Linked DNA regions of Homo sapiens: regions 2, 3 and 4 are each linked to region 1. The links come from fine-mapping of genetic effects on gene expression. A gene starts in region 1. Each other region holds a variant in brackets. All regions are shown on one strand. Distances are between the middles of the regions. Region 1 holds the start of EHMT1 (euchromatic histone lysine methyltransferase 1). Region 2 overlaps EHMT1 (euchromatic histone lysine methyltransferase 1). Region 3 overlaps EHMT1 (euchromatic histone lysine methyltransferase 1). Region 4 overlaps EHMT1 (euchromatic histone lysine methyltransferase 1).

Region 1 (8,100 bases):
CAGCCCTGCCTCACACCCGCTGCACCCTCCCTTGTGCATTTCAACAGGTGCCACTGTCCCCTACTTTGCAGAGGGCTCCGGGGGGCCAGTGCCCACTACCAGCACCTTGATTCTTCCTCCAGAGTACAGTTCTTGGGGCTACCCCTATGGTGAGTCGACAGCCAGGGCTTGGCAGGGAGGGGACGCCAAGAGCCCCACGCAGACCCTGCTTTCTTCCCGCAGAGGCCCCACCGTCTTATGAGCAGAGCTGCGGCGGCGTGGAACCCAGCCTGACCCCTGAGAGCTGACCCCGTGCTGCCTTCTCCAGGCAGGCCTGGCCTCTGCCCTGGGACTGGGGCGCCCAGGGCCTCGTGCCTTCTCTCTTGGCCTAGCCTGGCCCACTCAGGACCTGCCCAGCCTCTGCCAGCTCCTCTGGCATCCGCCCTCTTCTCCCTGGGGCTGGGGTGGGGGTGGCAGGGAGCTGGGACCTGGAGAGACAACTCCTGTAAATAAAACACTTTATTTGTAGAGCTGGGCCTCACCGGCCTCGCCTTGGGCACCCTCCAGCCTCTGGCAGGGCCTGACCCTGACCCCATCCTGGGCTCTGCTCATGCCAGGGCAGACCCTGCTCCTCAGGTGCCCCCTACTACCCTGGGGGCGCGCTCAGGCTACCATGCCTGGGCGGAGCCGCGGGGCTGGCTCCCTTTAACAGAGGACGGGGGCTGGCGCTGGGCCTTCCAGAGCCGCCTAAGGACACGTCCTTGGAGCCCGGCTCATGAAATGGGGCCTCACGCAACCTTGGTGTTTGGTTAAATTTGTGCCTTGGCTCCTGTTGCGTTTAGGCACCCAGGTTCCCAAGCGGTGTGGTGTGGACCTCCCCTGCTGAGAAACCCGCTGGCGCGTGGAGGGGCTTGCCCAGGTCCCTCCGACAGGAGACCCTGCTCCCTGGGCCTTGGCCCCTGCTAGCACCACTGCCAGGCCTGGCTCTGAGGGACGCTGCTTCTCCCCTGCCCACGTCTCCAAGGCCTGAAAGGCAGGGTTCTGTGGAACAGCATTTCTCAAAGGGGCATCCTGCAGACGTTCCAGCCCCAGGGGAGGCCCCGTGATGCTGGCTGGCCTGCCTGGAGGGTGCTTCCAGAAACAACGGAGATGGTGGTGAAGAAGGCTCTGGGTTCAAATTCCAGTTCTCCTTTAGGGCGAAGGGGTGACTGTGGCTAGGTTTGTCAGTTACCTTATCTATAAAATGCACAGGACCAGGCCGGGCACGGTGGCTCCCTCCTGTAATCCCAGTACTTTGGGAGGCTGAGGCAGGTGGATTGCTTGAGGTCAGGAGTTCCAGATCAGCCTGGGCAACATAGTGAAACTCCATCTGTACAAAAAAAAAAAAAAAAAAAAAATAGCTGGGCATCATGGCACATGCTTGTAATCCCAATTACTCAGGAGGCTGAGGCAGGAGAATCGCTTGAACCCAGGTGGCAGAGGTTACAGTGATCTGAGATTGTGCCACTGTACTCCGGCCTGGGTGACAGAGCAAGACTGCCTCAAAAAATAAAAAAACAAAACCCCACAAAAAACTCGTGGGACTGTAGGGTACAGCCCCCCACCCTCATAGCATGACAGTTTATTTCTTGAACAGTCCAGAGGGGGCAGATCCTGGCCTTGTGGCAGAGTTGTCATTCCTACATAGTGGTTCCCATCCCTGGCTCCCAGATGGCTGTTGACAGCTTTCACCACTGCCCAGCCTAATGGTGGGACTTTTGAGGGACAGACTGGGAAATGGATTGTCACTTTTTGTCTCTGACCTGTCCCCTTCCTGTTGGAAATGTGGTCTTTAGCCAGGCAGTCCTGTACTTGGCTAAAATTTTACTAATTGTGGGACAGGCAGCATGAATATTGGAGAACAGCAGAAAGTGTACCACAGGTGGGGTCATCTGTGAAGCGCCTCCTGGAAGCAGTGCAGTATATGGTTGAAAGGAAGGCCTCCTGGGCTGAATCCCATCACTGCCTCTCACCACTCCCTTGCTTCAGTTCAGTCACTTATAAAATGTGGGTAAGAACAGTGCCTGCCTCTCAGGACTGACCTGAAGTCTGCAGTGTTAGCATGTCACGTGCTGAGAGCAGCATCTTGACATAAGTGCTGAGGGGCACACAAGGGTAGCAGCTGATGGAAAAATGGAGTGAAAAAGCTGCCTGCAGCTGCTTCCCACACCTTCACTTAGGGTGGATGTTTGCTTGGTGAAGGATTTTTCTTCACATTCTAACTCCCTTTATTCAGTCAACAATTTTTTTGTTGTTGTTGTTGAGACAGAGTCTTGCTCTGTTGCCCAGGCTGGAGTGCAGTGGCACAATCTCAGCTCATTGCAAGCTCTGCCTCCCGGGTTCATGCCATTCTCCTGCCTCAGCCTCCCGAGTAGCTGGGACTACAGGCGCCCAGCACCACTCCCGGCTATTTTTTGTATTTTTAGTAGAGATGGGGTTTCACCATGTTAGCCAGGCTGGTCTCCATCTCCTGACCTCATGATCTGCCCACCTCGGCCTCCCAAAGTGCTGGGATTACAGGCGTGAGCCACCGCACCCGGCCCAGTCAACAAATATTTTGTCTCCTGTACACCAGGTATTGTTCTAGGCACCATGGACTTACATTCTAGTAGGGAGACAATATTCCAAATCAGGATGTGGGAGAGTCACATGACACACACTGTGATGGAGCCAAGTAAGTCAACGAAGACAGGTATGGGGGGGCAGTATCATTTTAACTAGGGAGGAGAGGGAAGGCTTCCCTTAAGAGGTGATATTTCAACTCAAGGATGGTAAAGAGGGAAGCCACAAAGACACTCGAAATAAAGGTTTCAGGGAAGGGACAGACAGCAGGGGTGGCGGAGAGGTGGGTGCGGGGCAGGAGGGCCATGAAGGCGCTCGTGTCTCCTGCGAGGGCTCAGGGTGCTCGGCCTGTCATAAATGGACTTAGGCTTTGACAGAGCAGTTTAGCTGCCCTAAAGAAACCTGGGAAGGTTCCCTTGGCACTTGGGATTGTCCGTTTCCTTTTCTGTCTATGTGCGCTGTCTATGCTGGACTTGAGATAATTCTCCGGAGTCCGACTCACCAGGAGACTCGGGTGTCACCCAGATTGACCTTCAAGGCTCATTTCTTGTCAGTCCAGTACCCGTCCCCTCGGTTCACACGACCATCCAGAAACCTCAAATTCAGTCCATGCTTCTTGTTTTGGGTCTCGGGGCTGGGATAAGGCGGGCTGACCACCGCGGGGCATGTAGGTAGTTTCCGTGGTGCTGGGGGCGCTCTCCAGGGAAGGCTACTTGGTCTGCAGAAAAGGCCTTGACTTGTGCATACCTGGGCAGCGGGCCTATGAGTGGCAGCGAGAGCGGGGTAACCAGAGAGGGCACACCCCCCAACCGGAGCGCCCCCCAGGTTGGCATCTCCACAACTGTAGAACCTCCCCCATCAGGGCAACCCTCCCGATTGGGACACCGCCCCCAGCCAGACACATCCTCCTAGCAGAACACCCATGCTTAGCCGGAGCCGCTCCCCCGCCAGACACCTCCCCACCGGGAAACCCTCCCCAGTGGGACACCCCAGCCAGTCCAGGTATTCCCGCCGTTAGGGACACCCCCTCCAGCCGGAGCATACCCTCGGCAGGGGCATTCCTCCCAACCGAGGGAACCCCGCCGCAACGGGAACCTGCCTGAACCAGAGCACCCTCCCGCGCCGGGGACACCCCACAGGCGGCTCCCGCGCCAGGCCGCGGCCCAGGGAGTCAGCCTTCCGCGCAAGCCGGCGAAATCAAAGTGCGTCCGGGGTTAGAGGTCAGAGGTCGGAGCCGCGGGTCTTTCTCCTTCTTCGGCCAGCCCACCAAAACGTCAATTTAGAATGAGACATGTGTTGAAAATGGGACGGCTACTCCCCATCCACTACTACGACTCTGGCGGGCGGGTTCTCCAGCTCCAGGTCTCCTACCCCGCGGGCGCGCGTTCCGGTTCCGGCCGCCGCAGGCCCGGCGCCTGGGGCGCCGCACGCCTGGTTCCAGTGCGCAGGCGCCGCACCGGTCGAGCTCCAACGCGCAGGCGCGGGCGCAGGCGCAGGCGCAGACGTAGGCGATCGGCCCCGCCCCGACTCTGGGCCGCGAGGCGCGGGCGGGGCGATGGCGCGCGGGAGGGGCGGGGCCACGCTGCGGGCCCGGGCCATGGCCGCCGCCGATGCCGAGGTGAGCAGCGGGGCCGGCGGGGGGCGGCGCGGGGGCGGCGGGCAGCGGCGGAGGCGGCGCGGGGGCGAAGAACCGGGCGGGGCGGCGGCAGGCGGCCGGCGGGCGGGCGGGGCCCCGGGTCCCCCCGCCGCCGCCGCCGCCGCTGCCGCCGCCTCAGGCCGAGGCCGGGCCGAGGCCGCCGGGCGTCCGGCCCGCGCTCCCGCCGGGCGCGCTTTGTGCGCGGCGCGGGCCGGGCGGCGGCTGGGGGAGCGGGCGGGGGCGCAGGTGAGGGAGGCGACCGCGTACCTGTGCCCGCGCCCCCCACGGACCCCGTGCCGCCGCCGCCGCCCGCAAGCCGGATCTGCGGGGAGGGCCTCGGCCAGGGTGCCGGGGAGGTGCGGAGGACAAAAGGAAAAGTAGCGGGGCCGGCCAACTTTGGAGCGCCGGCCGAGGCGAGGCTGTCCCTCCTCTCGGAGCTCTTCCTTCGCTTCGTTGACCTTTCACTTTGTTCTGAGTAGGATGGCACCATCTTTAACGAAAAGTTGGCCAGTCCCGGCGTGTTTCTCCCCAGACAATGCTGCTCCAGCCCTGCTGGCTGTCAGAAGCAGGAAAGCACGCTCGGTGGGAAGCTTGCGGACTCAAGTTTATTTCCAAACCAGCAGCTTTAAAGGGCTCTCGATGTAAAAAGTTCACATTCTTTTGTTAATGGTCTCGGCCTTCCCCGTGCTCATTCTCAAGGATAGTTTGTTTCCTTGCTTAGGAAAGGAAGCAGCGTAGAGATTAAAGTCTTGCGAGTGGACCACTGGCGTCCCTCTGAAGGAAAAGCAAGCAGGAGGTGGTGTGTCCGTGGAGATGCAGAAATAGTGTGGTCCTAGGGCTGAGATAAGGGACCGGTTTGGAGAAAACTGTCAGCGTAGAAGTATTTCTTTGAAATTAACTGTCTAGTAACAGTTGAGACTTCTAAAGCTTAGAAAGTTAAGGTGTAGTAAGAAGCCGTACAGTATCCTGGTGCATAGACTTAACACTGTATTTTAACTCAGGTAATGTATGGCCTTTTTGTTTATTTTTTTCCTGCATTTTTGGGGGGTGTTGAAATAAGTAAACTGGGAAGGTGCAGGGGAATTCTTAAATTCAATGCAAGGAGTTTTTGCTGAGTATCTGCAGCATTCAAGGAATTAATATTAGTCACTGAGAACAAAAAGCGAAATTAGAAAATTTCAAGTCACTTCTAGGCTTGTAGGGGAGAAGACGTGTAGTGATGAATTCTATCATTTATGAAGTACCCACTGGATCCCACACACTGTGCAAGACCTTTAGATCAGGCGCCTCCCTCGGTTTTCTTCACCCTGTGCAGCAGGTGCTGTTATTTCCTTTTTTAAATTATTATTTATTATTATTATTTTTTGAGACAGGATCTCCCTTTGTCACTCAGGCTGGAATGCAGAGGCATGATCACTGCTCACTGCAGCTTCGACCACCCAGGCTCAAAGGAGTCTCCCACCTCGGGTGCTGCCACACCTGGCCAATTTTTTTGTATTTTTTTGGTAGAGACCGGGGTTTCACCATGTTGCCCAGGCTGGTCTTGAACTTTTGGACTCCAGCGATCTGCCTGCCTCCGCCTCCCTAAGTGCTAGGATTACAGACATGAGCCATTGTGCCCGTCCTGTTGTTTCCTGTTTAGCTGAGGAGGAAGGGTTAGATAACTTGGCCAGTCGGTTGTAGGACCAGCACTAGTACAGTGTTGGGCACGTAGTAGGTGTTTAATACATGACCGATGAGCAAATGGCTCCAGATGTCTCTGGTTCCATAGGCAGCCTTGAATAGGGCTTTACACACCTGATGAGAATGACAGCCTGTGTTGACTGAGCCCTGACTTGTGTCCAACCCTGCCATAGTGCCAGTGCCTTGCATGAATTCAATAATTTGAGCCTAGCAGCAACCTTAAGAGGTAGGTACTGTTACCTCCCCGTTTATAAATGAGAAGACAGGCGCAGTGAGGCCCAAGATTGAAGAGCTTGTGGCCAAGAAGATGGAGTTGCAGGTGGTTTGGCCATAGAGCTGATGCTTGCTAAATGTGTTATATCTGTGATGGTCATTTTAGGTTAATAAAAGCTCTGTTTTTAGATTGATAATTCTAAGGGTTTATCATCAAGGTGTATGAGAAGGTGAGGGAGCCCCTGTGTGTAGCGCAGCAACTCTGGCCTTCTGGACAGTAGGTAGGCATGTGATCACTGTTGTCACTAAACCTGGGAAATGATTCCTGGGTCAGGGTTCATTAATTGCCAAATGATTAAAGTAATAAAGCTGACACTGGAAACTTATCTAACTTCATTTCTTTTCCTTGATTTACAAAGATAGTCAATACATTTTCCTACCAAAAAGAACTGGCCAGCCGTGGTGGCTCATGCCTGTAATCCTAGCAGTTTAGGAAGCCGAGGTGGGCGGATCACTTGAGGTCAGGAGTTCGAGACCAGTCTGGCCAACATGGTTGAAACCCTGTCTCTACTGAAAATACAAAAATTATCTGGGCATAGTGGTGTGTGCCTGTAATTGCAGCCTGGGCAACGGAGTGAGAGACTGTCTCAGGAAAAAAAAAAGAAAAAAAACTACTGAGGTAGTTGAATATATCCTCCATTCCCCATTTGTGGATTAGTTAGTAAATGGGGCATCTTAGGGTTTAAATATGTCCAGGGTCACTGAGGATCAGATCCTAGGGTTCCTTTGACTCAAGGCTTTTGTCTCAGCAAAACGTCACCTTCCAGCAGGAAGGCTTTCTCAGGCAAGTAGCAGGGTGGCTACTATGTATCGCTTCTTTATTTTTTCTTTTTTAAAATAATGCAGGCACGTGCGCATAATTTAAAAAATCAGTGCTAAAACCCTTAAAAAAAAAAGCTGTTCTCATCTCCTGTCTTTCTTTTTTTTTTCTTTTTATTTTTTTCTTTTATTATTATTATACTTTAAGTTTTAGGGTACATGTGCACAACGTGCAGGTTTGTTACATATGTATACATGTGCCATGTTGGTGTGCTGCACCCATTAACTCGTCATTTAGCATTAGGTATATCTCCTAATGCTATCCCTCCCCCCTCCCCCCTTTTTTTTCTTTTTGAGAATGAGTCTTGATCTATTGCCCAGGCTGGAGTGCAGTGGCCCGATCTTGGCTCACTGCAGCCTCCGCCTCCCGGATTCAAGTGATTCTTGTGCCTCAGCTTTCCTGGTAGCTGGGATTACAGGCGCCTGCCACCACACCTGGCTAATTTTTGTGTTTTCAGTAGAGATGGGGGTTTCACCATGTTGGCCAGGCTTGTCTCGAACTCCTGACCTCAAGTGATCTATCTGCCTTGGCCTCCTAAAGTGCTAGGATTACAGGCGTGAGCCACCGCCCCCGGCCGATCATCTTCTGTCTTTCTAGAGAAGAAGCAGCCCACTTGCATCTCTTGAGCATTTACTTCATGTTTCTAAATATATGTTTGTATTGTCATGTCTTTATTCACCAACTTTAGGGGTCGACTATGGACTTCCATTAATGGTGAATTAGTGTAAGATTTAGATTAGAGAAGATTTTTGTTCTCTTATGTTCATCCTGCCCCAATCAGAATGTATGTTCTTGGCCAGGGCCAGCAGCTCATGCCTGGGAGGCCGAGATGAGAGGATCCCCTGAGCCCAGGAGTTTGAGACTAGCCTGGGCAACAGAGTGAGACCTTGTCTCTACTAGAAGTAAAAAAGTTAGCTGGGTGTGGTGGTGGTATGTGCCTGTAGTCCCAGCTACTTGAGGGGCTGAGGTGGGAGGATCGCTTGATCCCAGGAGGCCAAGGCTGCAGTGAGCTGTGATTGTGCCACTGCCCTGCAGCCTGGGTGACAGAGCAAAATCCTGTCTCAAAAAAAAAAAAAAAAAAATACAGCCAGGCGCGGTGTCTCACACC
Region 2 (8,100 bases), 190 kb after region 1:
GGTCCCAGCAGAGGCCACCCTCTAGGGATCTGCGGGTTCAGAGGGCGCTGCACTGCCCTGGTCTCCCTCCTGCTGCCTCACGGGGCTGTGCCTGGGCCTGAGGCTACTGACCCTGGTGCGGGTGCCACAGCACCTCTGGCTCTCCCTTTGTTTTTGTTTTTGTTTCTTTTATGGATGGAGTCTCGCTCTGTCGCCCAGGCTAGAGTGCAGTGGCGTAATCTTGGCTCACTGCAACCTCTGCCTCCTGGGTTCAAGTGATTCTCATGCCTCCGCCTCCCCAGTAGCTGGGATTACAGGTGTGTGCCACCGTGTCTGGCTAATTTTTGTATTTTTTATTTGTTTGTTTCTGAGACAGAGTCTCGCTCTGTCACCCAGGCTGGAGTGCAGTGGTGTGATCTCAGCTCACTGCAACCTCCACCTCCCGGGTTTAAGTGATTCTCCTGCCTCAGCCTCTGGAGTAGTTGGGATTATAGGCGCCCACGACCACACCTGGCTAATTTTTGTATTTTTAGTAGAGACGGGGTTTTACCGTGTTGGCCAGACTGGTCTTGAACCCCGACCTCAGGTGATCTGCCCGCCTCAGCCTTCCATAGAGCTGGGATTACAGGTGTGAGCCACTGCGCCCGGCCAATTTTTGTAGTTTTAGTAGAGACAGGGTTTAGCCATGTTGGCCAGGCTGGTCTTGAACTCCTGACCTCAGGTGATCTGCCCACCTCATCCTCCCAAAGGATTACAGGCATGAGCCACCACGCCTGGCCCCTGGCTCTCTCTTTGAAACAAAGGAAAGAAAAGTGAACATTATCATACCACGGTTTTCTAGGATGTGATTTAAGATGCTTCAGTGACAATTAGTTTTGTAAGGCCCATTTGTTTGCTCAGAAAATAGAGTTTGGAGCTGAGATAGGAGGACTCCCCAGCCTGAGAGTGGCAGCAGGTGACTGATTAACTCAAAAGGGTGTTCACTAGAAGATCTTCAGGGACCCACAAAACCAGTGGGCCTGCCAGGGGGCTGGGTGTGGCACTGGGCACGACAGCAAGGGGCGAGGGGGTACTCTGGTCACCTCCCAAGACGGGCATAGACACACTGCAGCCCACAGAGCTGTGTCCACCGTCACAGAGGGTTCAGAAGCCAGAAATGGGAGGTGCTGCAGCCCTCAGAGGTGTGTCCACCTTCACAGAGGGTTCCAGAGGCCAGAAATGGGAGGTGCTGTAGCCCACAGAGCTGTGTCTGCCTTCACAGAGGGTTCCAGAGGCCAGAAATGGGAAGTCCAGCCACAAATAAACCCACTAAATTGATAATAAGAAAGAAGATTTGACACAGAAAAAGAAGATTTCTAAAAGCACACTATTAAATCTCCAATGTGCTGAAGTCTGGTGTCTGAGGAGGGAGGGCTGACACTTCCTCTCAGAGCTTGAGAACGGCGTGGGCACGGGCCCTTGCCATTCATTGTTGGCACGGGGAGGTCTGCATTTGGAACCCCTCGCTGCATGTAAGCAGACCCCACCTCCCACCTAGAAACAGGGACCACTGGCTGTGGGCACCCGCTGCCTCCCTGCAGGCACGCAGGCCTCTCTGGAGTGACTGGTCCTGAGCTGCAGTGCCTCCTCCGTGGGCTGCAGGGCTTCCATGACTGTATCCAGGGGGTTTCTACCTCATTCCACCGGAGTTCTTTCCCACTGCGGGTTAGGATGACGGCACCATGAAGAGAGGAGCCCTGAGCCGGCAGAAGGAAGAGAAGAGGGAAGCAGAGGAGCCCTGAGCTGGTGGAAGGCTGTGGCGGGTACCTTGGAGGAAGAGAGGAGGGAAGCAAAGGCAGAGAACAAGGCAGAGGCCACCCCCAGGTGGGGCCACCTCACCCACCGCCCCCGGAGACTGCGTGGCGGGGAAGGCGGCCCTAGTGTGGCTGGTCGGCCTGCATGCCTGGGCAGTTTGCAGCCTGTCCAGGTGTCAGAGCTGTTAGCTCTCTGATGCTGGTGGCTGTTCCCCCAGAATGGAAGCATTGATTAAATTTCAAGTTTGTTATTTATACAATGAAACACTTCATTAATTTAACCACTTTATTGCTGTATAATAGGTAGGCTGCATATATTCAAAGTACACACTTGGGTGAATTTTCACCCAGAAGCCATTGTTGCTGTCGGAAGAGTGAGCCCAGTCCTCCCTCATGCCCTGATGATCTTCAGGTGATCCTCCGCGCTTCACAGCCATGCCCAGCCCACCCCTGCCACCCATTGCTGGGCTTTCTGTTGTCTGCGTGTCTCGGTTTTATAGAAAAGGGCTCTCACCATGGGCAGCTTTCCCTCGCGTCCTTAAGCCGAGATCCCCATTTTCGTTGCCTGAAGTGCCCATTGTGTGAATGTGTCTGTTTACCCTTCACCTATCAGTGGACATTAGGTTGTTTCTGATTTTTGGTGGTTACTAAGAGAGATGCTGTGAATACTCATGCCTTCATTTTTCTTGATTAAACCCCTGGGAGTAGAATGGTTAGAACATATGACAGGTGTCTAGGCTTAACATTTTCAGAGACTGCCAGTAGCCAGGCATGGTGACACACACCTGTGGTCCCAGGTACTCGGGAGGCTAAGGTGGGAAGATCGCTTGAGCCCAGGAGGTCAAGGCTGCAGTAAGCTGAGATCGCACCACTGCACCCCAGCCTGTCTCAAAAATTAAAAAAAAAAAAAAAAACCTGCCAAACTGCTTTCCAAGTGATTGTACCATCTCTAGTGTATGAGAGTGCATTCATCCGTTCTCACACTGCTATCAGGGTTCTACCTAAGACTGTAATTTATAAACAAAAGAGGTTTAATTGACTCACCCTTCAGCGTGGCTGGGGGGTCCTCGGGAAACTTAACAATCATGGCAGAAGGTGAAGGAGAAGCAAAGCACGTCTTACATGGTGGCAGGAGAGATTGAGGAGCATTGTACCACACTTTAAAACCAGCTCTTGTGAGAACTCACTCACATGAGAACAGCATGGGAGACCCACCCCCATAATCCAATCAGGTCCCTCCCTTGACACATGGGGATTACAATTCAAGACAAGATTTGGGTGGGGACACAGAGCCAACCCATATCAGACAGTCCTGGTTCCTCCGCATCCTTCCCAACACTTAGCATGGTCAGTCTTTAACTTTTATCCATTTTAATAGGTGTGTAGTGATATCTTGTGGTTTTAGTTTTCAGTTCATTTCATTTCTCTAATGACAGTTGATGTTAAGCATCTTTTTATGGGCT[C/T]ATTTACGATCCATATATCTTTTTTAATGAAGTGTCTGTTCAAATATTTTTCTTGCTTATTATTGGGTATTCTGGAGTTTTAAGAGTTCATGTTCTGGATATAAGTCCTTTATCAGATATATGGTTTACAGATCTGTCTTTGGAAGTGCAGAATTTTAAAAGTTTTTATAAAGTTTGGTTTATCAACGTTTTTCTTTATTTTTAACTGGATCCTGTTTTTGGCGTTCTGTTTAAGAAATCACTGCCTAATCTGAGAACCCAAAGATATTCTCCCACATTTTCTTATACGAGTTTTATGGTTTGGGGGTTTACATTTAGGTCTGTGTTTTATTATAGTTGACTTTTGTATGTGGTGTGAGGTATGGATTGAACTTTTTTTTTTTGGCTTATGGATGCCTAGTTCAGTGCCATTTGTTGAGAAAACCATTCTTTCTACATAGAATTGACTCTGTACCATTGCCAAAAGCCAGTTGTCTGCATTTGTGAGTCAGTTACCCATGTGTTATTCCACATGTGTCAGTCATTTGCATGTCTGTCAGTCATCCATGTATGAGTCCGTCCATGTGTGTCAGTCATCTGCATGTGTGTCCACATGTGTCAGTTGTCCATGTGTGAGTCAGTCATCTGCATGTCTGTCAGTCGTCCACATGTGTCAGTCCACATGTCTGTCAGTCGTCCACATGTGAGAGTCTGCATGTGTGAGTCAGTCATCTGCATGTGTGTGTCTCTCATCCGCATGTGTGAGTCCATCATCTGCATGTGTCATTCGTCCACGTGTGAGTCGTCCACGTGTGAGTCATCTGCATGTCTGTCAGTCGTCCATGTGTCAGTCCACATGTGTGTCAGTTGTCTACATGTAAGGGTCAGTCATCTGCATGTATGAGTCAGTCATCTGCATGTCTGTGAGTCTGTCGTCCACATGTATGAGTTGGTCATCCATGTCAGTTGTCTGCGTATGTATCAGTCATCCGCATGTGTGAGCCAGTCGTCCACATGTCAGAGTCAGTTGTCCACATGTGTGTAAAGTCAGTCGTCCAGATGTGTGTGTCAGCTCCAGGGCCCTCTCTTTTGATGCATTGATCTGCATATCTGCCTTTAGGCAAGTACTGTCCTTTCTTGACTGATGTAGCTTTACAGTAGGTCTTGCAAAATCATTTTTCTCCTCCCAAACTTGATACTGCTATTCTCCTATATTTTACACATATATATGTTCTGAACACCATAATAGCCATGTAGTTATTCTGTTTAAACAGTCAGTGGTCTTTTTTTTTTTTTTTAAGATGGAGTCTTGCTCCGTCGCCCAGGCTGGAATGCAGTGGCATGATCTTGGCTCACTGTAACCTCCGCCTCCCGGGTTCGAGCTATTCTCATGCCTCAGCCTCCTGAGTAGCTGGGATTACAGGCACGAGCCACCACGCCTGGCTAATTTTTGTATTTTTAGTAGAGACGGGGTTTCACCATCTTGGTCAGGCTGGTCTCAAACTCCTGACCTCGTGATCCACTCACCTTGGCCTCCCATAGTGCTGGGATTACAGGTGTGAGCGACTGTGCCCGGCCTGGTTTTTTCTTTTTTTTTTTGGAGACAGTCTCACCCTGTCACCCAGGCTGGAGTGCAGTGGTGCGATAGCTCACTGCAACCTCCACCTCCCTGGTTCAAGCGATTCTCCTGCCTCAGCCTCCCAAGTAGCTGGGATTACAGGCACATGGCACCACGCCTGGCTAATTTTTGTATTTTTATTAGGGATGGGGGTTTCACCATGTTGGCTAGGCTGGTTTCAAACTCCCAACCTCAGGTGATCTGCCCGCTTTGGCCTCCCACAGTGCTGGGATTGCAGAAATGAGCCACCACGCCCAGCCGAGTGGTCTGTTTGAAAGACTGCAGAAGAGCTCTGCAGTTGCTCCTGCCATCCCCATCCCTGTCCCTGCCACGCTTCTCCACCTTGGTGGGCTCATGCTCCTGATGTTGCTTCCCTTCCGCTGGCCTCACTCCCTTTACCTTTTCTGTGGTGTTGGTCTGCTTGTGATGAGCTCTTGCAGCTTTTTTTTTTTGAAATGGAGTTTTGCTCTTTCACCCAGGCTGGAGTGCAGTGGTGCTATCTTGGCTCACTGCAACCGCCTTCTTCCAGGTTTCAGGCGATTCTCCTGCCTCAGCCTCCTGAGTACCTGGGATTATAGGCGCTGGCCACCACGCCCGGGAAATTTTTGTGTTTTTAGTAGAGATGGGTTTCACCATGTTGGCCAGGCTGGTCTCAAACTCCTGACCTCATGATCCGCCCGCCTCGGACTCCCAAAGTGCTGGGATTACAGGCGTAAGCCCCTGTGCCCAGCCCTCTTACAGCTCTTTAATGCCTGGAAAGTCCTTATTTTGCTTTCATCTTTGAAAGATATTCTTAGAATTCTGGATGCGTAGTTATTTCTTCCAATGCTTTAAATGGCGGTTTCCCTGGGTCCTCACCTGCAGTGTTTGCAGTGAGAAATCCAGTGCCACCACACAGTTATTTCTCTGTGTATAATGTGTCTTTTTTATATGGCTGCTTTTAAAATGTTTTTTCTGTATCTCTTGGTTTTAGCAATTGGATTTTCCTCTAAGCCTTAGTTTGTCTGTAAAGCAATTTGATTACTGAAGTGCTTTGGTGTTATTTTGTGTGTGTGCACGTAGGGTTCATTGAGCTTCTTGGATCTGTGGATTTAGGGTTTTTGACAAATTTGGAAATTTTTCAGTCATTATTTCTTCAAATAATGTTTTCTGCCCACCACGCTTTCCAGTATTCCAGCTGTGTATGTAGGAGTTCTCAGAGTGGTTCCACAGCTCACTGGTGCTCTTTTCAATTTTTAAATTATTATTTTTTCCCTCTGTGTTTCAGTTGAGCAGGTTTTTGTTGGTTTGTCTTCTAGTCCACTCATCTTTTCTTCTGCACGTGATGCTGTTGAGCTCATCCGGTCTGTGTGCTTACATTCTAGGCATTGTCGTTTTCAGCTCTAAAAGTTCTGTTGGAGTCTTTCAAACATTTCCTAACATGTTTCTACTTAACTTTCGAACCTATAGAATACAGTTATACCAATGGCTTTATTTACTTATTTATTTATTTATTTATTTATTTATTTATTTATTTGTTTATTTTAAGGCAGAGTTTCACTCTTTTGCCCAGGCTGGAGTGCAGTGGTGCAATCTTGGCCCATTGTAACCTCCGCCTCCCAGGTTCAAGCCATTCTCCTGCCTCAGCCTCCCGAGTAACTGGAATTACAGGCGCGCACGACCACGCCTGGCTAAGTTTTGTATTTTTAGTAGAGGCGGGGTTTCACCACGTTGCCCAGGCTGGTCTCGAACTCCTGACCTCAAGTGATTCCCCCGCCAAGGTCTCCCAAAGTGCTGGGATTACAAGTGTGAGCCACCTCACCCAGCCCACCAATGGCTTTAATGACCTTGTTTGCTAATCCAGCATCTGTGTCAAAGCCGGGCTTTTTGATTGACTGGGTTTTTCTCCCCATTGTGGGTCATGTTTCCTGTTCCTTTGCACATCTGGTAACCTGTAGCCGATGCCAGGATGTGGGTGGGTTTTGCAAAACTTGTATGGTGCTAAGGACTCTTCTTCGTGTGAATGTTCTTGAACTTTGTTCTGGAACTCAGTCACTTGAAAGCAGTCAGATCATGTTGGATTTTGCTTTTCAGGTTTGTTAGGTGGGTCTGGAGCCACCGAGGCAGGTCCGTCCATTGTCCTCCAGCCCACAGCCTGTAGATGGAGAGTGTGGCCTGCCTGGTTGTGGGGAAAGGCCCCGGCTTTGAGTGCACATTCTCAACAGGCTTGTGGCCGCTAGTGTCCTGCCGGATGACCCACTTCCTGCCGGAAGTGCACAGATCTCTGGAACCTCTCTTGGAGCTCTGTTTTCTGTCTGAGCATCCGGGGGCCCTGCCTGCCTACCCCCTGCGCCATGGTTGGAGCTCTGGTGGCAGTGAGCTGGGCAGCCACGGGCTCCCTCACAGACTCGCCTCTCAGGGGCACGGTCCTTCCCTGCCTGGTGTCTGGTGTCTTGACAACCATGGTCATAGGTTTTGACTGTTTTGTTTTACTCTTCTGGTTCTTTTAGGTGGGAAGGTAAACCTGTTCTGGTCTGTATCACCCCATTGTTTCAGGAGTGCGGTTGCTCACCAGTTGTAGGCCAGGCTTGTCGTAACTCAGCCAACTTCAGAAAGGCTGGGCGTTTGAACAGTCCCAGAGTGGAAGGATCTTATGTGAACTGGAAGCTCTCAAAAATGTAATTCTGGGCGGGGGGTGGGGGGGGCGCGTGGTGGCAGATCACTTGAGGTCAGGAGTTTGAGACCAGCCTGGGCAACATGGTGAAACCCCGACTCTACTAAAAATACAAAATGATGAGCTGGGCCTGGTAGCATGAGCCTGTTATCCCAGCTACTGGGGAGGCTAAGGCACGAGAATCGCTTGAACCCCAGAGGCAGAGGTTGCAGTGAACCAAGATCGTGCCAACTGCATTCCAGCCTGGGTGACGGAGTGAGACTCCGCCTCTAAAAAAAAATAAAAAATGTAATTCTGGTTATAAAATCATAAATCATTCTGATAAAGGAAAAAGAAAAGAGGCCCCTAAGCAAGCAGCCTTTTGTTCAAGGAGCTCTGAAATGTATGGAGGAGGGAAGCCAGAAACAAAGAGCAGAGGGGTGGAGGAGCCCAAGAGCAGCAGAGGCTCTTCAGGAAATCCACTGAGGCCTACACACGGAGTTCGCTTTTAGTTTTCTCTTTTAGAAGTCAAGGGAACAGTGAAGCCCATGCCGGGGGCTGGCCGTTTGTGGATGAAGATGCTGGAGACCAGGCCACTCGGTTTCTGTTCTGCTTTTTTCTTCGCCTTCACTGAGC
Region 3 (8,100 bases), 30 kb after region 1:
TTTGTACAGAAACAGGTGGCAGTCTGTAGTTTGCTGGCCCCTGATTGAGATCTAGTCATTGTTTCCAAAGCACCTTGTCTTTTGATGTAACATTTATTTTGTGTTTTAATTATTGGTCTTTTGGTTGTCTCAATTGCTAGATTGTAAACTCTTTGAGGTTAGGGCTCTATTTATTTATTTATTTATTATTATTTTTTTTAAGAGACAGTCTCCCTCTGTTGCCCAGGCTGGAGTGCAGTGGTGCGATCTCAGCTCACTGCAGTCTCCACCTCCCAGGTTCAAGTGATCCTCCTGCCTCAGCCTCCCAAGAAGCTGGGATTACAGGTGTGTGTCACCACGCCCGGCTAATTTTTGTATTTTTAGTAGAGACGGGGTTTCGCCATGTTGGCCAGGCTGCTCTCGAGCTCCTGGCCTCAAATGATCCGCCTGCCTCGGCCTCCCGAAGTGCTGGGATTACAGGCGTGAGCCGCCACGGCCTGCTTATTTAGCTGTATTAGTTCCCCAACCCACTGAATGTTGCCTGGCACACTTCAGGGCCTTGATAGATTGTTGTGTAACCTGATACAAAAGGAGAAAGGGCCGGAATTGGCTTGCGCCTTTATTGATTTACATATGTTTTTGTGGCCCAGGGTGAATATTTTTGGAATTAACTGACTTCTCAGTGTAGACAGGAACCATTTATCCATTCATGTGTTCCTTAATTTGTTGATTTTTGTAACAAGTACTTACTGCCTTCGTGTGCCAGCTTCTGCACTGGGAGCCACATGAGAATGCACATGGCGTCTGCCTTGTACTTACAGAAGCCCTTGTGTCCTAGTTTTGAGAAAGACAAACAATTACACACTTTGGTAATTGCTATTAAAAGAGATAAACAGGGTGTGATAGAAGCAGCGAAGAGGGGCCTCCTGTAGGTGGTTAAAGGAAGGCTGTCTGTGTTTCCATCTCTGCTGCAGACTGATACACAAGTGTCTTTTTCACTCGATTCCAAATGGAATCTTAGAGAAGGGTTGGCTTTTGTACTTGCAGCGCTGAGTGGAGAGGTGGCTGTGATCTCCAGAAACGTGGCTGCAGCCCCACGTGGGCCTCAGACCCTTGAAACATGGCCATATCGAACTGAGATGTGCTATGTGAAATGCACACTAGATTTCAGAGGCTTAGTACGATAGTTCACACTCTTTTGGTACTAATTATTTTATATTGGTTACATGTTGATAATGTTTTGGATCTATACTGAGTTAAAGGCAATTTATTAAAATTAGTTACTTCTATTTTTACTTTTTTTTTTGAGACAGAGTCTTGCTCTGTTGCCCAGGCTGGAGTGCAATGGTGTGATCTCAGCTCACTGCAGCCTCTGTCTCCCGGATTCAAGCAGTTCTCCTGCCTCAGCCTCCCGCGTAGCTGGGATGACAGGTGCCCACCACCACACCCAGCTAACTTTTTGTATTTTAAATAGGGATGGGATTTCTCCATGTTGGCCAGGCTGGTCTTGATCTCCTGGCCTCAGGTGATCCGCCTGCCTCGGCCTCCCAAAGTGTTGGGATTATAGGTGTGAGCCACTGTGCCTGGCCTATTTTTACTTTTTAAATGTAGATGCTAGAAATTTAAAATGATGTCTGTGGCATTTCCTGTCTTTCTGTGGGACAGTGGTACCTGGCCTGAGGAACATTTCAAGTTTGTGCTGCGGGCAAGAATCCTGTGACCACGGGGAGAGGACGAGGGACTCATTCTCTGGACAATGGGCTGGAAAGTAAGAGGGCTGAATGGGAGCCCCGAGGAGTGCTCCCGTTTTGTGGGAGAGAGGAGCTAGTCAGCAGGTGGAAAGCAGCCTTGGCTGCCCAACCCTGGAGCCTGGGGGAGGCCCCCGAGCGTGTGGGCTGGGGTGGTCTGGGGTGGTCTGGGGGAGGCCCACGTGCATGTGGGCTGGGGTGGCCTGGGGGAGGTGTGGCGCAGTTCTGTTGTTTTCACATCTCGCAAGGCACGTGTGTTGTCATGAGCTCTGGCCGAATTGGAGGCTGGGTTTGATCCCCTCACTGCCGCAAATCTTGTAACGTTGGATGTCTTAACTGATTTTCAGCTTTAACATTATCTCCTACTGTCTTTGAAAACACGGCTATTCATGTTCAGCTTCTTCCTTACCTTTCTGTACCTTAAATTCCAGTCCCTCAGGTTTCCTTCTGCCTGTGCTGTTTCCAGTCCCCACGTGGCTGAGCCCGCTGCAGCAGGCTTTGGTCTCCACTACTCCTCAGATGCCCTTTTGGTTATGGTCACCATTGACCTAGACATTGTCATTGGTTAGTTCTCAGCCTTCGTCTTACTGGTTCTTTCACCAGCATTTGTTATCATAATTCAAGCAAAAAAAACCTGGGATTAGTTGTCTCCGTTTGGCTTCTAGAACACTGCACTCTTCTGGTTTCCTGCCGCCTCCTTCTTCCCAGTCCTGTTTGGAGGACCCGCCTCTTAAGCCTGACTTCTAAATATTGACGTGCCCGAAGTCCCAGGCTGGTCCTCGTGTTGTGTGTGTCCTTATTCCCTGAGCTATCCAGTCCTCTGTTGACCCCAGGCTCGTGCCCCAGGCTGACCTCTTTGCTGTGGCTCCAGGTTGACTCCATGTTGACTGCATGGAAAACTGATAGGCACCTTCTGCCCAGCATGAAACGCAGCTCTCTTGGTCTGCCTCTCGCCCCGCAGCGCTAGACACCATCTGTAGAATGGCATTTCCCAGGAGACGCTGTCGGCTCTACCTTTATGACACAGCTTCTGCACTCCATGGCTGTAATGGGGTCCCAGCTTCTTCTCCCTGCTTTTTGGTGGCCCCTGTGCTCTCTGCTCAGGGGCAGCAGTCTTTGCCAGGCGTTGCTGCTCTGCACGCAGACTTCCTGTGCCTTCTGGGCTCTGCTCTTGCCTTTTTTTTTTTTTTTTTTGAGATGGAGTCTTGCTTTGTCACCCAGGCTGGAGTGCAGTGGTGCAATCTTGGCTTACTGAAACCTCCGCCTCCCAGGTTCCAGTGATTCTCCTGTCTCAGCCTTCCGAGTAGCTGGCATTACACGCGTGCGCCACCATGCCCAGCTAATTTTTTTGTATTTTTAGTAGAGACGGGGTTTCACCGTGTTGCCCAGGCTGGTCTCGAACTCCTGAGCTCAGGCAATCCACCCGCCTCGGCCTCCCAAGGTGTTGGGATTACAGACGTGAGCCACCGCGCCCGGCCGCATCTGTGGACACTTGCTCTCGCTCTCT[C/T]CTGCTTTCTTTTTCTTCAGAGCATTCGTACTCTTTGCATTGACTGTATGCTGGGAAACCACTCTGCCCTTCCTTCCCCATTTGTTTGTTGACACTTTTCTCAAGGAAGAGCTTTCTTTCCCCTTTCATATTTTTTTGGCATTACTATAGAATGGCTCCTGAGGTAATGAATTTGTACTTATTAAATGTGTTAAAATCTATTTTCACCATTTGTCCTTTTGAAACTCAAATTATTCCAATATGGCCAGTGAGAGCCCTTCAAGCAATATTCTGTTTGGGACAGCAAAATCGTAAGAGACCATATTGTATAATCTTCAGCAATTAAATCTGAACACCTAGATGAAATGAACTATACCTGGAAAACCCAAAAGAGTCAATGTTAAAACACAGACAGTGAAATTCAGTAAAGGAACTGGATATAAAATTGATACATTAAGTCAGTAGCCAGCTGGGTTGTGGTGGTTCACGCCTGTAATCCCAGTACTTTGGGAGGCTGAGGTGGGAGGACTGCTTGGGCCCAGAAGTTTCAGACCAGCCTGGGCAACATAGAGAGACTCCTTCTCTCCAAAAAAAAAAAAAAAAAATAGTTGGGCATGGTGCCTCATGCCTGTGGTCCCAGCTACTTGGGAGGCTGAGGCGGGAGTGTCATCAAGAGGTTGAGGTTGCAGTGAACTGTGATCACAACACTGCACTCTAGCCAGGGCATTCGAGCACTTGGAACAGAAGACTTGAACTCTGGAAATACATTTGTTGTTCTTGGACATCATAAACATGTTAGTTCTCCCAAGTTAATGCAAAAACTTATCCTTTATGTCTGTAAAAATGCCAACAAGGAATCATTCTTAGTCCTGCCTTCCCCTCTCAAATTCAGCTGGTTCATCAGAAGATCCCATCAGCCTCATCCTCAGGGTGCATCCCGTTTCCCTGACTTCTCTCCCTATCATGGCATCACTGTTGGGCCCAAGCCACCACAGTGCCCTGCTTGGATTATAGTAGTCACCCTTTAGCTGGTCTTCCTAGTTTTTCTGCTTATGAGCTGTACCATCTTATCCATTTGCCACCCAAAAAGCCAGAGACTGATCCTGGTTGTCGTATCGTGCTTGAGCTTCATCACTGGGGAAACTGGGCATCAGTGGGTTGAGTAGTGTCTTCCCAAATTCACATTCCCCTGTGACTTCAGAAATAGTGTTCTCCCAAATTCAGATCCACCCGTGACTTCAGAAATAGTGTTCTCCCGGCTGGGTGCAGTGGCTCATGCCTGTAATCCCAGCACTTTGTGAGGCCAAGGCGGGTGGATCATGAGGTCAGGAGTTTGAGACCAGCCTGGCCAAAGAGACCAGCCTGGTCAACATGGGGAAACCCTGTCTTTACTAAAAATATAAAAATTAGTCGGATGTGGTGACGGGTGCCTGTAATCCCAGATACTGCGGAGGCCGAGGCAGGAGAATTGCTTGAACCTGGGAGGCGGAGGTGGCAGTGAGCTGAGATCGCGCCATTGCACTCCAGCCTGGGCAACAGAGCGAGACTCCGACTCAAACAAACAAACAAACAAACAAACAAACAAAAATGTCCTCCCAAATTCAGATCCACCCATGACTTGAGAATGGGGCCTAATTTGGACGTAGGATCTTTGCAGATGTAATTAATTAAGGATCTTGAGATGAAGTCGTCGTAGATTTAGGGTGGGCCCTAGATTTAGTGACTGGTGTCCATAAGAGGACACAGACTCAGGGAAGAAGCCACAGCAGCGGAGGCAGAGGTGGGAGCCAAGTGTTGCGAACCAGGGAGTGAGAAGATGGCCTACACCACCGGAGCTGGAAGAGGCAAGGAAGTGCTCTTTTCCTGGAGCCTTCAGAGGGACCACGCCCTGCCAGCAGCCGGATTTCACACTTCTGGCCTCCAGAACTGCGAAAAGATAAAAATAAATTTAGGTTGTTTTAAGTTAACCAATTTATGATACTTTGTTAAGGTAACTGCAGGAGATTAATGCTCTGGGCAAAGTGTACACGGAGTCTCTGTGTTACTTCTTACAATTGCATGTCAAGCTACAGTGGTCTCATTGTGGGACAACCTTTGAGGAACTGTGTTTTTATGGTGGCTGTGCCATCTAACATTCCTGCCAGCAGTGAATGAGGGTTCCAGTTTTTATATCGTCGCCAACACTTGTTATTTTATTTATTTATTTTTTTTTGAGACAGGGTCTCACCCTGTCACCCAGGCTGGAGTGCAGTGGTGCAGTCACAGCTCACTGCAGCCTCAAACTCCCAGGCTCAAGTGATCCTCCCGCCTTAGCCTCCTTAATAGTTAGAACTACACAGGTGTGGGCCACAATGCCAGCTAATTTAAACATTTTTTTTAGAATGGGGTTTCACCATGTTGCCCAGGCTATTCTCAAACTCCTGGGCTCAAGCGATCTGCTCACCTTGGCCTCCCAAAGTGCTGGGATTACAGATGTGTAATTACAGGTGTACCTTGCCCAGCTGTTGTTCATTTTTAAAATTATAGCCAAACTAGGGAGTGTGAAGTAGTATCTCATTGTGGTTTTGATTTGCATGTTGCTGATGACTAATGATGTTGAACGTCTTTTCATGTTCTTATTGGCCATTTGTATGTCTTCTTTGTAGAAATGCCTGTTTATATCCTTTGCCCATTTTAAATTGGGTTGTCTTTTTATTAATGAGTTACAGATGTTCTTTATATATTATAGAGGGAAGTCCCTTATCAGATATAGGACCCCCCGCTTTTTTTTTTTTTTTTTTTTGAGACAGTTGCACTCTGTTGCCTATGTTGGAGTGCAGTGGGGTGATCACAACTCACTGCAACCTTGACCTCCTGGACCCAAGTGATCCTCCCAATTCAGCCCCCCAAGTAGCCAGGGCCACAGGCACATGTCACCACACCTGGCTAATTTTTGTTTTTTAATTTTTTGTGCAGACTGTGTTGATCAGGCTGGTTGAACTCCTGGGCTCAAGCAATCTTCCCGCTGCCATATGAATATGAATATGTGCACACCCGTGGTTCCAGCTACTCAGGAGGCTGAGGTGGGAGGATCACGAGCCTGGGAGTTCGAGGCTGCGGTGAGCTGTGATTGCACCACTGCACTCCAGCCTGGGTAGGTGACAGAGTGAGACCCTATCTCAAACAAAACAAAACAAAACCACCAGTGTTGACGATGATATGGAAAAACTGGAACCCTCCCAAAGTGCCGGGATTACAGGTGTGAGCCACTGCACCCAGGCAGATGTAGGACTTGTAAATATTTTTTCCCATTTTGTGGGTTGTGTTTTCACTTTCTTGATAGTATCCTTTGAAGCACAAACATTTTTAATTTTGATAAAGTCTAATTTATCCCTTTGTTCTTTGTTGCTTGTGCCTTTTGTGTCCTATTTTAGAAACACTTTTGAAATTCAAGATTATGAAGATTTGTGCCTGTTTTCTTCTATGAGTTTTACAGTTTTAGCTCTTTTAATTAGATCTTTGATCTATTTTGAATTATAGTCACAGGCCACATAATGATGTCTCTGTCAGTGATGGACAACATATAAGATGATGGTCCAGTAAGATTATAATGGAGCTGGCCAGGTGCGGTGGCTCACGCTTGTAATCCCATCGCTGTGGGAGGGAGGCCGAGGCAGGCGGATCACTTGAGGTCAGGAATTCAAGACCAGCCTGGCTAACATGGTGAAACTCTGACTCTACCAAAAATAAAAATACAAAAAATTAGCTGGGCCTGTTGGCACACACTTATAATCCCAGCTACTTGGGAGGCTGAGGCAGGAGAAATGCTTGAACCTGGGAAGTGGAAGTTGCAGTGAGCCGAGATTGTGTCACTGCACTCCAGCCTGAGTGACAGCGAGACGCCGTCTCAAGAAAAGAAAAAAAAAGATTGTAGTGGAGCCGAAAAGTTCCTATTGCCCAGGACATGCTAAAGCTCTAGCAATAGGCATTATGTGTCCTGCTCAGGTAAACAAACCTACTCTGCTATCAGTTGTCTAAAAGTCTAGCACATACAGTTATGTGCAGTACCTAATGCTTGATAATGATAATAAACTCCTATGTTACTGGTGTATGTAGTTACTATTCTGTACTATACTTTTTTACCATTATTGTAGAGTGTACTCCTACTTATTTAAAAAAAAGTTAACTGTAAAACAGTCTCAGGCAGGCCCTTCAGGAGGAGTCTAGAAGACACTGTTACCATAGGAGATGACGGCTCCATGCATGTTAGTGCCTCTGAAGATCTTCTAGGGGACAAGATGTGGAGGTGGGAGACGGTGATACGGATGATCCTGACTCTGTGTGGGCCTTGGCTAATGTGTGTGTTTGTGTTTTAGTTAATTTTTTTTTTTGTAGAGATGAGGTCTTGCTATGTTGCCCAAGCCAGGCTGAAGTCATCCTCCTGCCTTGGCCTCCCAAAGTGCTGGGATTACAGGCGTGAGCCACAATGCCCGGCCAGTGTGTCTTAGTTTTATTTTTTTTGAGACGGAGTCTCACTCTGTCTCCCAGGCTGGAGTGCAGTGGTGCGATCTTGGCTCACTGCAACCTCTGCCTCCTTGGTTGGAGCAATTCTCCTGCCTCAGCTCCTGAGTAGCTGGGATTACAGGTGTGCACCACCACGCCCAGCTAGTTTTTTTATTTTTAGTAGAGGTGGGGTTTTGCCATGTTAGCTAGGCTGGTCTTGAACTCCTGACCTCAGGTGATCCACTCACCTTGGCCTCCCAGAGTGTTGGGATTACAGGCGTGAGCCACCGCGCCTGGCTAGTGTATCTTAGTTTTTAACAAAAAAGTGTAAGAAGTTAAACTTTTTTTTTTTTTTTGAGATGGAGTTTTGCTGTTGTTGCCCAGGCTGGAGTGCAGTGGTGCAAT
Region 4 (8,100 bases), 93 kb after region 1:
CTGGTGGTGGTGATGAGGACTGTGAGATGGAGTGGGGTTTGGCGGGTGCCTCCAGGAGGGGACAGCATGTGAGGGGCACAGCTGGTGCCCAAAAATGCCTGTAGACCCCGGCAGCCTCACAAGGTCTGCCCTGCCATGCTCCACCCCGGCTCATCTCAGGCCAGGAGACCTTGTCGGCAGAGCTGTGCCGTGGCAGGCAGGGTGTCTTTGGTGTGCCTCAAGGCCCTGCTCTTAAAAGTATTGAGGACCCCAGAGGGCTCTTGTTTATTGGGTTGTATCTAATGATAGTTACTGTAAAAGAAATGAAAACTGAAAAGTTAAAAATCACATTTTTAAAAAATAATAAAAGTAAACATGTAACATTTTATTTACATGTTAGGGAATACAGCAGTTTCTGTGAAAAGTACTTTTTCTGAATGAAAAAAACTCAGTTGAATGGCATTGTTTTCCATGTTGGTCCATCTCTGTCATGTCTGGCTAATCGAAGAGTCAGCTGGATTTGCAGATTGGCTTCTGCACCCAGCCTGAGGTGATACTGTCTGAAGAAAATCTGGTCTCCCATAGACATGTGGTTGGCAAGGGGGAAGTATTTTGATATCTTTTCAGATAATTGCAGCTATTCTGCTTTGATATGACACGAAAACTCAACAAGGTGAAACTGTGCCAATGACCTTCTTCCTCTGTGACATTAAAGCCCATCTTGGATGCATCTTTGTCCCATGCGTGATTTTGAATATTAGGCACTGGGCATTTGGGGAGTGTCAGCTCACCTTGTTAGGAAGATCTTCCCCATGTTGACACATTTTATTATATGGTATCAAAAATCATAGTCACTAATGATACCGCTCATGTAATAAGAAAAGTCATAAATATGGAGAAACTTTCAAGCTCATGGGGACAGATACACATTTACATGTGTTTCGAAAATTCAAAAGGTAGAGTTTTAACATTGGCAACAAATACTACTGGTTGTTTTCTTTGAGGCTCACTCTGTTCTGTGGAAATGTCTGCCAGATGTCCAGGTCTGACTGAGTGGCATGTCCAGGCCTGAGTGGCATGTCCAGGTCTGAGTGGCATGTCCAGGCCTGAGTGGTATGTTCAGGTCTGAGTGGCATACATTTTGCCAGTTGTTCTTTTAAGTGAAGATGCTCTGTGAGTGAGGAAAGCTTCGGGTTCCACGCAGCCACTGTGCCTGGCCTGCTGCCTGCCCCCTTCCTCTGATGTGGAACGCTGGAGAGCTGTGCTCACAGGCCATCATCTCACTGCCTCATCCAGGGCACTCTCAGGCGAGCCCCCCAAGTGCCTGCTGGTCAAGAGTTCAGTTGCTGGAGTACACTTCGGTGTCCTGACCTGGTCGATGCAAAGGGGCTGACACCACCGCTTGGGCACCGTCTGTGCAAATATCAGCACAGTGAAAAAGGCAATTGAGGTCCTAGTATTACCATGAAAATAGTTTTGACCTCCTGGACTCCTGGAAGGATTGCAGGGACCCCGGAGAGCTCCTGTTGGGGGGTAGGTGTGAAGGGTGCAGGCTGAGCTGGCTGGCGTACAGCTGTGATGGACCAGGAAAGGTAGCGTGCTCTGCATGTTCGAGGGCTGGCCATGAGCAGCTGGGCTGCTGGCCCTGGCTTGGCAGTGGGAGATCAGGGGGTGGGAGGTGGAAACCTGGGCCCCCCTGCCTTACCGTGGTGGGGTGGGCTGTGCACAGTTGCTAAGACCAGCTCCTGGGGAGGGTGATGCAGTTAGGTCCGGTGTTACCAAGTCAGCCCAGAAGGCAGCGAGACCATATGGATGTGAGCCCTGGAAAGCAGTAGGCACATCCGGGCTCAGGTAGGGGCTGGCCTGGCGTCTGCTTTGTGGGGAGGAGGGGTTCTGTTGAGAGGCCCCATTGTTGACATGTTTTCTCATCCAGACGCTGGACACCCGGGTTTTTGCAGCCTCTTCTTACCTGTTGATAGTCAATTAAAGATGGAATCAGTGCGTGGCTGGCCTCCTGCAGCTGTCTGACTGGCTGCTCCTAGTGACCTCGGGCAAGTCTGTGCCTCTCCTCTTCTGGTTGTGGACTCGGAGCACCAAGTGTGCCTCCCTCAGTTGTTCCTATTTTATCACTCTGACCCGGAGGCTTCCTGCCCACTTCCAGCTTCCAGTGGCCTCACCAGAGGGCTTTCTCCAGTATCACATCACCAGGTGTGGGTGTCAGCCTGACAGCTCCCACTTGCAGTCTGGCATCTCCAACTGCCCAGAGTGGTCAGCAGCCCTCTTCCCCGGCCCCCAGCTGTGGGTGGGGCATTTGCAGACTCCCTGCTGCCTCCTTATGGACTCCATGGTCCTGCTGCTGCGTCGGGAGAGGCCTGGCTAGGAGTGTTTTATGTGTTTATGTTCACTTCTCCAACCAGACTCTAAGCTTCTTGAAGGCAAGGATTTTTGTGTAAAAAAAAAAAAAAAAATTCTGTCCAAGTGCCACCCAAGTGCAGTGGCTCACACCTCTAATCCCAGCACTTTGGGAGGCTGAGGCGGGCGGATCACTTGAGGCCAGGAGTTTGAGACCAGCCTGGCCAACATGGCGAAACCCCCATCTCTACTGAAAACACAAAAAGCATCTGGGTGTGGTGGTGTGCACCTGTAGTCCCAGCTACTCAGGTGGGTGAGGCCTGAGAATCGCTTGAACTGTGGAAGCAGAGGTTGCAGTGAGCCGAGATCGCGCCACTGTACTCCAGCCTGGGCGAGAGAGTGAACTCTGTCTCAACAAAAAAATTGTAAGAGGCCTTGTATAATACATACCTCTATAGATGCTTAATCTCAAAGATTTAGTGATTTAAGTTCCTTATTGAATTTTCTTGATTTATCTATTTCTATAATTTTTTGTAGGAGGTTGGACATTTGAAATATATGAATTATTGTCAGCAGTAGAATGCATTTTGAAATAAATTGTAACACTCCTGTAACAGAGCCCAAAGATTTCAGATATCTAATTATATAAATGATACATGAATGCGTTCTTATTGTTAAGAAACTGTCTTCAAAAATAGAAATACAGGAGAAGTTTCCTTGGACTGTGTTCTGAATGCCAGTTCTTCTGCTGGAGGCGACTGTAACCAGCTGGCAGGAGTAAATCTGACTGTCCAGCAGCTCATGGTGAATGTTGTAACTACGATTTTTTGACTTTTTCCAAATGATGTCCATTTGGAAAAGCGGCCTCCCACTGAACCCGGCTGACGGCTGTTGTTTCTCTCTAACAGGCAGTTCCGGCGAGGGGGGAGCCTCAGCAGGATTGCTGTGTGAAAACCGAGCTGCTGGGAGAAGGTGAGGGCGGTGTGCACCGAGGGACAGGAGCAGCGCCTCCCTCCAGACTAGAAAACCTGCTGCTCTTCCTCTCTTATTAGTCCCCGTCTTCTGACTTTCTTTGCTTCACCTAGGTTTATGGTATAGTTTCTAATCTATCCCATTCCTAAATAGCACAGTTGCACAGACAAACACAAAAGCTCTGCCAGAGAAGGAACACATTTGTCAAAGTATGAAAAGCAAAAATCCTGTATATCCTTGTCTTAAAGTACACCCAGAAAATTAAAAGTGAGTGGCCACACAAATGTTTATAGCAGCATTGTCACGTCGCCGAAAACCGGAGACACTCCGGTGTCCTCAGTTGATAAGGAACTGGATAAACAGATCGTGGTACATCCACACAGTGGGACAGCGGTCAGCAGCCCAGAAGAGCACACAGCATGACTGACGCCGCGCCATGGATGAAGCTTTTGTACGGTTTGTTAAGTGAAGGAGGCCAGACCCAAAGGGCCACAAGCTGCATGACTCCAATTTTATGGCAGACACTTGGAGAACAGCAGTGGTTACCAGGAGGTGGAGGGAGTGGTGTGGAAGCAAGTGTCTGCAGAGAGGCAGGGTGAGGGGAGTTGGGGCGAGGGGAGTCGGCGGGGCTGCACCCCTCTGTAAGGCGTGGCGCACACATAGGGTTCGGATGTTCTTGGAGAGCCTGCACCACCAAGAGCGCCCCCAGGAAATGAGGGCAGGTGGCGCCAGACGAGCTGTGCTGTGCTCCACAGTGAAGGGAGAGTGGTGTTCTGGCTGGACCCATAAGGGTGGCGGCCGTGGGAGCAGCTCAGACACTGGACTTGCCTAAGGCTCTCCCAGCTGGAGCCTGCTCCTCTCCAGACAGCGCGCAAGGCCTGGCTCCTCATGGACTGTGGGCTGTGGCCCCTGCCGTGTTCTCCTTTCACCCTAGATGGCCTCGCTGTGCCTGTGGGTTCTCGTCCACCCACTGGCTGTGCACTGTGGTGACCGCTGCCCGCCTCTGCCGCTACCCCTAGCCGGCCCTCCAGGGTTGCCCCCACCTCCTGCGCCATCCACCTCCTGCAGCCTGACTGGGTGTTTTCTTCCTGTACTTTGGCCCCTTCCTGTTGCCGTCCTTTCTGTGTCTTTGAACTGTTTCTTCTGTTGGCTCCAGTGCCCTCCGGCTCTTCCCCCTTCTCTCCCTGGTCACCCCTCCTTTGACCTTCCTAGTGGAACTTGTTTCCTACGTGACACCAGATGCCACAAGCCCCAGGTTATTCCATTACGCTTTAGGCTTTGCCTGTGCCCTGTTCCCTTACACACTGCCGCTGAGCCACGGCCTCTCCACCCTGGGGGAACTGCTGGACCCCCACGGTGGCTGCCCCATCTTGCTTTCCCTGCAGCAGTTGCAGAGGGCTCCAGGTTCTCCACGTCCTCGCCACCATTTCTTAGTGTCTGTGGCTGTCCTGGCGGGTGGGAAGTGGCATCTCATTGTGGTTTTGGTTTGCATTTTCCTGACGGCCAGTGATGTTGAGCATCATTTCGTGTGCTTACTGGCCATCTTTAGAGCTTCTTTGGAGAAATATCTCTTCTCCTGTGATTTCAAATTGGATTGATTTTTATTGTTGAGTTTTCAGTGTTCTTTATATAAGCAGAAGTCCCTTATCAGCC[A/G]TGGGATTTGCAAATATTTTCTTCCGGTCTGTGGCTTGTCTTTCCCCTTTCTTGATGGTGTCCTTTGAAGTATAAATGTTTTCAATTTTGATGAAGTCCGACTTACCTGTTTTTTTCCTCCTTTTAGTTGCTGGTGCTTTTGGTCTAAAACCTAAGAACTTACCATTACTTAATAGAAGGTCACAAACATTTACATTTATTTTTTCTTGGAGTTTTATAGTTTTATCTCTTTTATTTAGGTTTTCGATCAATTTTGAGTTAATTTTTGTATATGGTTTGAAGTAGGGGTCCCAGTTTATTATTTTGCAAGTTGATAATCAGTTGTCCCAGCAACATTTATGAAAAAGACCTTTCTTCCCTCATTGAATTGTTCTTGCACCCTCGTTGAAAATCAGTTGGCTTTAAATGTGAGGGTTTATTGTAAGATTTTCTTTTCTTTAGACAGGGTCTCCCTCTGTAATCCAGGCTGGAGTGTGATCATGGCTTACTCTAGCCTCCATCTCCCTGGGCTCAGGCAATCCTACCACCTCAGCCTCCCAAGTAGCTGGGACCACAGGTGTGAGCCACCACACCATGCTAATTTTTTTTTTTTTTTTTTTTTTTTGAGATGGAGTCTTGCTCTGTCACCCGGGCTGGAGTGCAGTGGCACGATCTCGGCTCACTGCAAGCTCCGCTTCCCGGGTTCACGCCATTCTTCTGCCTCAGCCTCACGAGTAGCTGGGAATACAGGCACCTGCCACCATGCCCGGCTAATTTTTTTTGTATTTTTAGTAGAGACGGGGTTTCACCATCTTAGCCAGGATGGTCTCCATCTCCTGACCTCATGATCCACCCGCCTTGGCCTCCCAAAGTGCTGGGATTACAGGCGTGAACCACTGTGCCTGGCCCCTAAGTATTATATTTTTTGATGCTATTTTAAATAGAATTGTTTTAAAAATTCTTTTTCATTTTGATCATTGATACTGTATAGAAATACAAGTGATTGGCTGGGCACACTGGCTCATGCCTGTAATCCCAGCACTTTGGGAGGCCAAGGTGGGCAGATCACTTGAGGTCAGGAGTTCAAGAGCAGCCTGGCCAACGTGGTGAAACCCCATCTCTACTAAAAATACAAAAATTAGCGGGATGTGGTGGCTCGCACCTATAATCCCAGCTACTCATGAGGCTGAGGCAGGAGAATCACTTGAACCCGGGAGGCAGAGCTTGCAGTGGGCAGAGATCATGCCATTGCACTCCAGCCTGGGTGACACAGCGAGACTCCATCTCAAAAAATAAAAAAAGTTAAAAAAAATTGATTTTTGCATATTTATCTTATATCCTATAACCTTGCTAAACTCGTTTATTAGTTCTAATGATTTAAACTTCCTTGGGAATTTCTGCATAAAAGCTTGTGTCATCTTTAGGGCTCATTTGGTTTCTTCCATTCCAATCTGCATTCTTTTTATTTCTGTTTCTTCCTTATGGCCCTACTTCGAATCTCTAGTACAGGGTTGAATAGAAGTGGCAAGACTGGACATCCTTGTCTGGTTTCTGATCTTAGGGAGAGAGCTTCCCGGGTTTCACCTTTAAGTGTGATGTTAGCTGTAGTTTTTCATAGATGCCCTATGTTAGATTGAGGAAGTTTTCTTTTCTTAGCAAACCATTTGCTAAGTGTTTTGACCATGAAGGGGTGTTCATTTTTTCCTGTCTAATGAGATGCTTGTGTGGTTTTGTCCTTTATTTTGTTCTATTGATATTTGGCATATTAATTCATTTTTAGCTATTAAGCCAACCTTGCATTTCTGGGGTTAAATTCCACTTGTTCATGGTTTAATCCTCCTCACCAATTTTGTTTTGTTGTTGGGGGGTGCGGAGCTGGATTCAGTTTGCTCATTTTTTTTTTTTTTTTTTTTTTTAATGAGACCTGTCACCCAGGCTGGAGTGCAGTGGTGCAATCATAGCTCACTGAAGCCTTGACCTCCTGGGCTCAAGCGACCCTCCTGCCACAGCCTCCTGAGTATCTGGGACTACAAGTGTGCACCTCCATGCCCGGCTAATTTTTTAATTTTTGGTACAGAGTCTCACTATGTTGCCCAGGTGGGTCGTGAACTCCTGGGTTCAAGCGATCATGCCTCCTTGGCCTCCCAAAGTGCTGGGATTACAGGCATGAGCCACCACACCCAGCTTATAGATTCAATTTGAGGGGACTTGACAGCTTTGTAATGTCATCCATTTAGGAGCATGAAATGCCTTCTATTTAACTTTTTTTTCAACACATTGGCTTTGAGTAATCTTGGCAAATTTCCTAATACCCTTTGTAGTTTTCCCTACTTCTGTGAATGATACTTTTTTTTCTTACATTTTCTAGGTAATGTTGATATAAATAAATGTCTTTGATTTTGTAACATGATTTCAAATTCAGCAGTCTGGTTGTACTCTTGTGTTTTAGTTGCTAATTGAGTCTGTTTTTAAGTAAATGATTGTGTCAGATGCAGGTGGGAACAGTTTGACCCTCACATTGTTCTTTCCCTTTGGTGTCACCTGCACTGCCTTTTTATGTCAGACACTGGTAGTGTTAATAGATCTTATATGCAATTAATTTAGCATTTACATATACATCTGCTGCAGGATTTGGTATGAGGAAGTTTCCACTTACTCTGTTTTGTTAAGGGTTTTTAAAACATAGTTGTTTATTCAGAACACACACATTAGATGCCAGGCCTCGTTCATGTGCTCAGGGTACACTGGTAAACAGACAGGGCATTTGCGCTCATAGGACTTAACGTCCTCGGGTGGAAGGACAGACGGCCAGCATGACAGATGATCAGGTCTGTTGTGCTCGAGGTGATAAGCACCAGGAAGAACAGAGCCAGGAAGGAGGGCACTGGGCGGTGGCATCTCAGGCTTGACTGAGCTCCGTGTGCACCTAGCGATGCCATCGCAGGCTTCCTGCCTCAGCCTGTCCTGAGCTGAGTGTGTGTGTCAATCTCGTGATGTAAAATAGTGTCTCCTTGACTGCCCTGGATATGATTTCCTGGGGTTGTCATCGGAGAGTGAGCCTCTGTAGGGAGTGGAGAGCAGACCACGGATGTGCTCCAAGTATAAGCCCTTTTTCTGACCCATTTTCTCTGTTAGTTATTGTGAAGCCTCTTCTGAAGCCTTGTT

What was found. PIP is the estimated chance that this variant, and not a neighbour inherited with it, causes the effect.
Region 2: its variant is fine-mapped to the expression of EHMT1 in whole blood (TOPMed, PIP above 0.99).
Region 3: its variant is fine-mapped to the expression of EHMT1 in whole blood (TOPMed, PIP above 0.99).
Region 4: its variant is fine-mapped to the expression of EHMT1 in whole blood (TOPMed, PIP above 0.99).

Annotation. Positions count from the first base shown.
Region 1 is chr9:137,614,852-137,622,951 of GRCh38, forward strand. EHMT1 (euchromatic histone lysine methyltransferase 1) reads left to right here and starts at 4,154. Exons shown (of 27, transcript NM_024757.5): 1 at 4,154-4,198. The coding sequence starts at 4,178. It overlaps ARRDC1 (arrestin domain containing 1), which reads left to right. Exons shown (of 8, transcript NM_152285.4): 7 at 1-149; 8 at 223-509. The coding sequence ends at 287. It overlaps ARRDC1-AS1 (ARRDC1 antisense RNA 1), which reads right to left and starts at 4,044. Exons shown (of 3, transcript NR_122035.1): 1 at 3,680-4,044; 2 at 3,083-3,340; 3 at 481-1,348. RefSeq lists enhancers at 3,847-3,896, 4,562-5,280 and a silencer at 3,937-4,236.
Region 2 is chr9:137,801,169-137,809,268 of GRCh38, forward strand. The region is part of intron 18 of EHMT1 (euchromatic histone lysine methyltransferase 1); the gene reads left to right. Among named protein-coding and RNA genes, the nearest start is that of MIR602, 33 kb to the right of the region's middle. RefSeq lists an enhancer at 7,903-7,982. The variant C/T (reference allele first, on the strand shown) is at 3,236.
Region 3 is chr9:137,644,692-137,652,791 of GRCh38, forward strand. All of the region lies in intron 1 of EHMT1 (euchromatic histone lysine methyltransferase 1), which reads left to right. Among named protein-coding and RNA genes, the nearest start is that of EHMT1, 30 kb to the left of the region's middle. RefSeq lists an enhancer at 2,613-2,682. The variant C/T (reference allele first, on the strand shown) is at 3,235.
Region 4 is chr9:137,707,728-137,715,827 of GRCh38, forward strand. It overlaps EHMT1 (euchromatic histone lysine methyltransferase 1), which reads left to right. Exons shown (of 27, transcript NM_024757.5): 2 at 3,240-3,303. Among named protein-coding and RNA genes, the nearest start is that of EHMT1, 93 kb to the left of the region's middle. RefSeq lists an enhancer at 770-1,731 and a silencer at 7,892-7,951. The variant A/G (reference allele first, on the strand shown) is at 4,957.